Homo sapiens: one gene and its partner. The protein of the gene in region 2 interacts with the protein of the main gene of each other region in a pairwise test. Each region holds a gene or a part of one and is shown on either strand. Other genes may lie near its edges. The genes, in order: PRKAR2B and AKAP19.

Region 1 (2,930 bases), on a different chromosome or scaffold from region 2:
CGAAGTCTCTTGCTTCATGCCGTTTCACTTGAAGAATTTTTAAGCTTGTTTGTTTTATGGACGGAGTCTCGCTCTGTCACCAGGCTGGAGTGCAGTGGCACAATCTCGGCTCACTCCAACTTCTGCCTCCCAGGTTCAAGCGATTCTCCTGCGTCAGCCTCCTGAGTAGCTGGGACTACAGGCACATGCCACCACGCCCAGCTAATTTTTGTATTTTTAATAGAGACGGGGTTTCACTATATTGGCCAGGATGGTCTCGATCTCTTGACCTCGTGATCCTCCTGCCTCAGCCTCCCAAAGTCCTGGGATTACAGGCATGAGCCATGGTGCCGGCCTTTTAAAGCATTTTAAATGGCATTTAGCCAGAGTTTATAATACTAATCCTAATGGTAACACATATACATTCACCTAAGTTGTGTCACAGGTAACGTGTATGTTAAAATATCTGCACTAAGCCCTAGTACATATGGATATGTAGAAAACAATACACACACACATACATACACACACACACACACACACACACACACCTTTATTTAAAATAAGGGAAAGCACCGTCACTCTTGGGGAAAAAGTCCTCACCCCTTTCCTTAGCCACGCATGATACACGAGAGGCTCTGTCCTTGAATGAATGGTCAACAGAGAATTCTCACATAGTAAGGAGTGTTGATTAATAATTAAATAATGACATCCACAAGTCAAACTTGAGCTGTTTTAATCAGATAATTTTACACATAAATTCCTAGTTAGCCAGATTGATTTGGTTATTCTAAATGGCCAAATAAATCTGCAACACACCACAATTATTTCTCCCACACATGATGAATAGCTAATAATTTTAAAAACCTATTGCCATACAGAACCATACTTTCTTACTATGTTATGCCCTGGGGGTTCGCTTCCACATGCCACATTGCTATCATGCTTTTCAATGAATTATGCATTATGCACGTCAGAAAACTTTAAAGAAACAAGCAAAAAAGTATGAAAAACAATAATTCATGTATTTTATTATAAAAGTGTGCTTTATTGTAAGGAAAATTTAAATATAACCAACAATACTGAAAATAATGTACGTGGCATTTATAGCCTTGGTCAAAGTTCTTTATTAAACAGGCGTTTGCTGTTCCATGAATAGTTAACAATTAGTTTATGCAACAAAATAGATAACTTGAAAAAGTGAGTAAGAATACAGAATGATGAACCAGGAATCTGGAGTTCTTTTGTGTTTTTTCTTGTTTAACAGACATGGCTTTTAAAATAAAATCTGAAATATAAAACAAGTCATCTTCATGTAGAGAGCTCTCTTTTCCTACAAGAAGGTTTTGCAAAAATGTTAAACAGTGTTCTAAAAATGTGGCTGAAGTTATACTTTACATACTTTAACTTCTTATATATACATTATCCAATTAACATTCTAACCACATTTTCATATACAAGTGGGACCATAAACATTCTCTAGTAAGACTACACTAGCACAGAGTAATTTTACCCATGTATATATATTCATTTGAAACCTGTTTCCCAAAATGAAATCACTCATTTAAAAGCAAACAACTGGTTAGAATTAATGTCTCTAGACACTGGGTCATGGGGCCTAGAAATCATGTAAGAGTATATTGCTTTGGTTGAATATAATTAAATTCATCTTATGTGGCAGCATACTGAGCATATCAATGAACAATGAAAATCTAGTACATCTGAGTTCTTTCTGCACTAATTTCAACTATGAGTCTACATTAAAGCAATGGCAAGGCCTAATGGTATATATGGTAAGGTCAGAAATTCATTTTGTCTTTATATAGGGTTATGCTCATAAAAATTTGTTTCTATTCCTCTAGAGGATGTTTTTAAGAATTAAAAAAACCAAACAAACCCATATTGGCTGCTGATCAATGAGATTGTGGGTTGGCAACCATCCTAAGAAAGAACGGAAACCCAAGGGAACAGATGTCTACATAGGACTGTATTATGCAGGCCTAGTGAAGAACAAAGAAATAAACTGTGGGCATGCTGATAAGGATCCCACATTATTTTTGGGATAGGAGAGATTTTTTAGGTGTAAAATCTTAAAGAATACAAAAAATGTCGGATCTTAAGTTTAAATCACTTTTTAAAAAAACAAAACTTTGTGACATTAAATGTCAAGATCAAATTTTTAAAGACATAGAATACAGAGAATTGCAAAATAAAAAAAAGCAGATATATGCTTGATGAGGGAAAAATGCATTAATGATCTCTCATCTAAAACACTGTTTTCCTTATTATCATAATGACTAAATTGCCTGTCCATAAAACCACTGGAATATGTATGTTACTGACATTATGCCAACAAAGTCAAAATGTACTTTATTGCAAAAATATAAAAAGTTTTAAAACTGCATATGATATTTTATACCATTTCACCAATAGGCCAAGGCCAGCACATAACTTATCAAGCTAGAAAACTTTAAAACAAAAATGATTAAAATTTTACTGTGTTTAATGAGTTATAAAAAAAAGTGATGCCATGCTGTGTAGCATGTTTAATTGCCAAGTGCCCTCTTACATGGGGATAGTCACTAATATGATTATCAGTCTGAATAAGTAAAACACATATAGCCTATGATAACATCCTTTAATTATCTTCTTAAACACAGATACTTTCTATATATTACAATCATTTTAATAAACCTTTCAGTCATAATTTTGTGGAGTACAAAGTCATTTTATCAGTATGTTGATTTTTTTATGAACTACTCTTTAGAAAGTGATGTTAAAGCCTATTGACTATTAAATCACTACTGTTTATTGATACGTTGTAAATGTAAAAAAAGGAAAAAACCTGAAATCACAGAAAATGCTTGGCATCTACACAAACACATTCTCAGTGGACTAACCACTACTGTGTAATTTTGTCACTACAGGTCTTGCTCCATACTTTTGCTTCA
Region 2 (6,445 bases):
TTTGTGTGATAATTATCCTTACAAACAAGGTTCAAGTCAGGAGAAAAAAATTAATTGAAAGCAAGAAGACTTTTGTTCAAAAGATATATTCAATAATTGATATTGTTAATGAAGTAAGTACTTTTTAAGGTATGAAAGAACTAAAAGGTATTCCAGACTCAGAACCTTAAAGTTCTAGGCAAGAATAATTTTTAAACTAAAGGTAAGTTTATAAATTAACAAAGTAAACAAAATTTATGATTTTGTTTTTTGTTTGTAATTTTTGTTTAATTTTAAAGGTAAGTTTATAAATTAACAAACAAAATTTATAATTTTTTGTTTGTAATTTTTGTTTATAAACAAAATAAATTTTTTGTAACTTGTTATAGTTTCTCCTTCATCCCATACTCTTTAGAAACTAAGTGAACTTCAGGTTTGTAAGAATAAAAAGCCAACGGAACTGAAAAAGACATTAAAGATCATGTCCTGCACCCTTCTCATAGATGAGGAAATGGCAGCCCAGAAGGTATTGCTTTATGTTTTCTCAGTTCTTAATCTGTTTTATGTGAAGCATTTTTCTTTCAAATAATTCAGTAACAGATCTGGAATAAAGATGCCATGATATCGGATACATTTACATTTATACTCTTAAAGGTCCTAAATTGGACCTGAATGATCCAAGAAATTATTTGTATAAATGGATTTTTGTTCTCTATATTTGTTAACAATGCAGAAAATGTTGTCTTTTATATTGTTAAAAAATTCAAAGTACACACTGTCAGAAAGCATTTGCTTCAGTTAAATAAGAGCTCACACTAGTTAATTGCAACTGGACTTTTATTGTGCAGTTACAACAACAAATGTTTTCAGAAAAATATTTGGAAAAAATATACCACTTCATAGCTAAGTCTTACAGAGAAGAGGATTTGCTAATAAAACTTAAGTTTTGAAAATTAAGATGCAGGTAGTGCTTCTGAACTAATGCCCACAGCTCCAAGGAAGACATGTCCTATTTAGTTATTCAAATACAAGTTGAGGGCATTGTGATTAAGCAAACAATATATTTGTTAGAACTTTGTTTTTAAATTACTGTTCCTTGACATTACTTATAAAGAGTCTCTAACTTTCGATTTCTAAAACTATGTAATACAAAAGTATAGTTTCCCCATTTGATAAAAGGCCAATGATACTGAGTAGGATATATGCGTATCATGCTACTTCATTCAGTGTGTCTGTTTTTAATACTAATAAGGCAGTTTGACAAATTATTTCTTTGGGACTAAGGTGATTATCATTTTTTTCCCCTTCAAAATTGTGCTTTAAGTGCTGATAACCACAGGCAGATTGCAAAGAACTGATAAGGCAACAAAAGTAGAGAATTTTAGGATCAAAGGCATGTAACTGAAAGGTAACAACAGTACATAAGCGACAACTGGGGAAGGCAGCAGTGAAACATGTTTGTGGGGTTAAGTGAGTCATTGTAAATAAGGAATTTGCACATTTATTTTCTCTGATAACCTGCTTCCATGTTGCCACCTGGAGGCTCTTTGTTGTGCTGGTAGAAGCCCATTTGCCCTTACTCTGGATGTTCCAAATGTTTCCCTTTCCAGGAGCTAGTCAGTCTTTCAGTCATCTGTTTTATATGTCTCCTGCCTTCTCAGACAGTCCTTCTACTCTCTTTTATTGTTCATGAAAGACCTTCAAATTGAAGTAAAGCCCATATTTCAATATAAAGATATGAAAGAAGGCTAATATCCTATCAGTGATATTCTCATCCATCTTGTCATGAAGGCCATACCATGATAACTATCACATGTAATGTAAATTTGTTTATTCATCTCTCTTATTCATTTATTCATCTTTTTTCATTTGTTTATTCATCTTTCTCCCATTTGCTCCTGTCTTGATTTATCCACTAGCTCACTGATTATGCAAGCCTTGTAGTTCATATATGTCATGGGTTAACATACAATACAGCATATATTTCAGACATAAGTGTTTCAGAAATATTGTACAGAAGATATTGTACTCTATTAAAATGTGATTCAGGGACAAGGGAGTGGTGCTTGGTGATAAAAGTATACTGCCATAGTTGCTGAGGAAGGGCAGCAACAGAAATCAGACTTCTAGTTGATATGGATCTGGCAGGCATCTCTGTCACACCCCTGGGAAATAGTGGCCCAGGGCACAGAAGGAACCTGAAATTAAAATATTTAGATACAACCAAAACTCACTTGTCTGTCCCTATGTATACTGAAAAGTTTAGTGGGGCATGCTGCTTTACCTGGCTTTGTGTTTTCACCATTGTACTTATTTTATATACCTAATTGTACATTTTAAGCAGCAGATGACCTTGCAGCAAAAATGTCTTGGTGTGAGATGCAAAATGAATGAAAAACAACCACACCTAGGCTTTTGTCACTCAACCTAAACTACTCTTCATGACCTGGAAATGTTTTATACTTATGGGAAACTTTCTGCCCTTAACCTTATAACTTCAGATCCTTGTATGAATGGGTTTGGTTGTTTTTCTATTATATAAATTGTAGATTGCAAGTACAATGGGACAGTACAAATCCCGGGACTCGGTAAAATTAGAGTTGAATGATGAGGTGTCCAAAGGCAACGAAAACATGGCATATTTCAAATAATGTTTTCCTTGCTTATGTAACTTGGAGAATTCACTCTATTTGATTGTGGGTTTCAAAGTATTAGTGTTAAAATTAGAGGTAGATTTTCTGCCTGCTTACAAGACAAATACATATTTATCTCATTAAAGAGGTCATAAGCCTTTTTTTTAACCTTTATATTTCAATACCAATGGTGTATTGTGGATCTAACATACACAGGCTTAAATAATTTCCTTTCCATTTAAACTCAATGTCTACCAAATCTTGATGAAAAGATAATTCTAGAAACTGAAGTCTTAATTTTCTAACAAGTCATGTCTTAATTTCTTCTTCTCCCTCCCAAATTTTCTGTTACCACTGATCTTCAAACAGTACTTAATCCTTTAAAACAAAAAGGTGTGTGTGTATGTGCTGTGACAGTAAAAATGAAAGAGAAAAAATAGCTTCCCTAAAAGGTAGCCAGGCTTATGGAAACAGTATAATAGGTGGCTATAAATGCCCTATAGGCTTGTGTTACCACTAAAAAATAACAAAAACCCAGAAAACGAGTACTCTCCTCAAAGGACAGTTTTATCTTTTCCGTTTTGCAATACAACTGTAAATCTTCATGCATTATCTGGTCTATTTTAATGGTGACCGCCTTACTAGTCAAGAAAAAACTGGAAATAAATGCCCATATTCCAGCCCTCTGTACCTCTGAGATAGTAAAGCTTAATACAGAATTAAAACTGAAACTTTCTACCTTGCAGACTAAGTTTCTGTTATTTTTAAGATTTATTGGATTGCTCTTTGTAAAAGGTACCCCTACTTGTTTTCTTGTATAGTTATATCACTGGGCTTAATTCAATGCAATAAACACTAATGTCATGGCTTCTATAAACTGTTATCTCTAAGATGGCTTTAGGCACAAAGTCTGAGTCGTCCAGTAACAGCTGTAATTAGTTAGGGCCCTGAGGTCCAAGGTGGTAGTTACACTTCTCATCTACAAAAATAAATATCTTATCTTATTAAAGACAGGGTTCATTTGTGTCAAGAAGTAGAGATCCTTGACAAACAAACAAGACTTACTGTTAATCACTATGATTTGAGTGCCATTCCCTCGCCAAGAAATTTTAGAAAAGCCCTTTTCATATCTGGACTTTTTTTGGGTATAAACAAACAAAAATTGTTATTTTAAAGGATAAACTTCAACCATTGGAATTTGGGGCAGTTTTTATTCCTTAGCATTTTCTTTGGTGATGCCATTACTTAGGAAGAAGTGCTGTGACATTCAGCTGATTATTGGGTGTCACAGGACCTCTGTTCAGCCCTTCAGATGACTAAAATCTAAGACTAAACAGAAATTGCTGTTAACATAGAAGTACTTAAAATGCATTTCATCCTAGTTGTTCTTATAATAGTGACATTATCGTAGACACATTTTTAAATCCAGATAGTTATTTGTACTTTTTCACACCAGTTTTTGCTTTTGTCACATTTATTCAAACTAGCACCTCCACAGTCAAAGTGTTGTCATCCTACAGCCTCAAGGCCCCTCACTCTCAATGTATGGAATGTCATGGTACTTGATGTTATTGCATGCCCATTGCTGCAAGGCATCACACAAGATATCCTGAGACAGGCGGTGTGCATATTCCAAGATCACAGTATTGGTCCCTGGAGGTTCCTTCACTTCCTCTTTGACATTAACTGGAGAAGCCATCCTAGGTAGACATCTCTCTTCTGGCATAAAGGGTTCTTCACTCTCATGCTGCTTCTCACCTTCATATATGGTAGGAAATGGGAAAGTTTGCTTTGATTTCATGCAGCCCATGTTATGAAGAGCTGTTTGTGGAGGAAGCAGTGGCAAAGACTACTTCCAGGCCATCTTTAGAAAACAATGAAATTTGTCCATGTGATGTTGACCAGTGCTTTCCCTCTCCAGGGCACTTCAGTAATCAATGTTCCCTTTCACCACTCTTCACGTGTAGTGTTTACCTGTCAAGAGAAGGTAGGTTTCATTTTGAAGTTACAGAATGCAAAATAGTGTATGATTGAGTGGCATGTAAAAATCCTTTCATCACTTTGGTCACATGGAAGAAATCTGAGGTAAAAACAAACAGCTTTATCTTATCAGTAGAAGAAAAAGATAATCACTCAATAAAAATGGCAACTTGCAAAATAGGAAAACTTTTTTTCAAGATCTTGCATATTTTATAAAACTGAAAACAATTCAATTTTTGCTAGCTTAGATTTATCTATACCAAAACAATTCAATTTTTGCTAGCTTAGATTTATCTATACCAAGGGCTAGCAAACCATTGGGCCAAATTCCAGCTACCTATTTTTGTACAGCCATGCTCACGTGTTTACATGTGTCCATGGCTGCGTTCATACTACAACAGCAGAACTGAATAACTGTGACAGACCATGTGGCCCACAAAGCTTAAAATATGTACTATCTGACCCTTTACAAAAAATGTTTGCTGAGTCCTGATCTATACTGTCAAGCAAAACAAGCACATCAAAATTTTGTTCCTCCCCAAACCTCATGAACCTACAGATCTTGGACTACTGTTAGAGTCTGGCTTTATCCCCTGGTCACATATTTACAACTCAAAGAGTAGTAAACAATGTTGGCTTTACTCTAGTGCCACGTCTAAACAATATAGGTTACATATAGCAAAGCCACCTATTGACTGTTCCCTGTGAAATTGTACAGAAGCTCAGATTAAGGTTAAAGGTTTTTCCTCCTAAATGTCTCATTCCTACCCTTGTTTGATGTTTGGTCAATAAATAGATGACAATGCTTGTGATGTGCCTTCTAAGCCTCCCAAGTGTGTGTTATCACAGAATGAACTCCTCTTAAGGGACTTAAGGATAACTAAAACAATACAAGACAGCTTCATTTTAAAGAGGACTGAGTGTAAGAAGCACAGGTAATCTCTATGAATGAGATTAATGGTCCCTGATTGTATCTTAGTTTTGGGACTAAAAACATAGCTCTAAAAATTCATAAAATCTGTTTCTGAAAACACCTTTTTTTTTTTTTTTTTTTTTTTTGAGACAGGGTCTTACTCTGTTAACTCAGTCTGGAGTAAAGGATGCAATCACGGCTCACTGTAGCCTGGACCTCCTGGGTTCAAGTGATCCTTCCACCTCAGCCCACTGAGTAGCTGGCCTGCAGGCACAAGTCACCATGCCTACCTAAGTTTTTGTAGAGACAGGGTTTTGCCATTTTGCCCAGGCTGGTCTTGAACTCCCGGGGTCAAGTGATCTGCCCACCTCAGCCTCCCAAAGTGCTTGGATTACTGGCGTGAGCCACTGTGCCTGGCCTGAAACCACTGATCTTAAGGCAAAAGCTTGCGTGCATCTAATTCATTTTTTAATAGTTTGTAATTAAGGATGTCCAGAGGAGGTGATGTTTGCCAGGTCTACCACCATATATTATTCTATAAATTCTACCCAGTTTCTCATAATACTACATCTGTTCCTACCCCTAATAAGAGTGATATGAGGGTAAGAAAGGAAAGGCAGTCTTCTGCTTTTAATTACCTTTAGTTCTGTATGCCCTGCTTCACGCTGCATACTTCAGAGATGTTAATTTTAAAAGGGAAACAAGTTATGTGTGGTGTCTGTCTTGTTTACTAGCCTGAACTGAAGATGGGGACTGTCTTGGTTGTTAATCATCAGCATGTTATGATTTTTCATAGTGTCTAGTTTTTACTGTGAGGGATGGTTAAGGGAATTGGACATGGTTAACCTGAAAAAAATTACTTGGAGAACTCAATGAGTGTCAGATAAATAAAAGGCTGTGAGTGGAACCATCAGTGGAACCATCAGAATATTCTGTTTTT

The links.
Region 1: the proteins of AKAP19 (region 2) and PRKAR2B interact in binary tests that used the Homo sapiens proteins (3 or more experiments, as listed by UniProt).

Annotation. Positions count from the first base shown.
Region 1 is NC_000007.14:107,159,580-107,162,509, reverse strand, and holds the end of PRKAR2B (cAMP-dependent protein kinase type II-beta regulatory subunit), read right to left. Parts: coding exon 2,928-2,930; 3' UTR 699-2,927; downstream 1-698. UniProt on the Homo sapiens protein: Regulatory subunit of the cAMP-dependent protein kinases involved in cAMP signaling in cells. Type II regulatory chains mediate membrane association by binding to anchoring proteins, including the MAP2 kinase.
Region 2 is NC_000002.12:190,197,838-190,204,282, reverse strand, and holds the end of AKAP19 (small membrane A-kinase anchor protein), read right to left. Parts: exon of another isoform or gene 4,587-6,445; 5' UTR 4,423-4,586; coding exon 4,135-4,422; 3' UTR 799-4,134; downstream 1-798.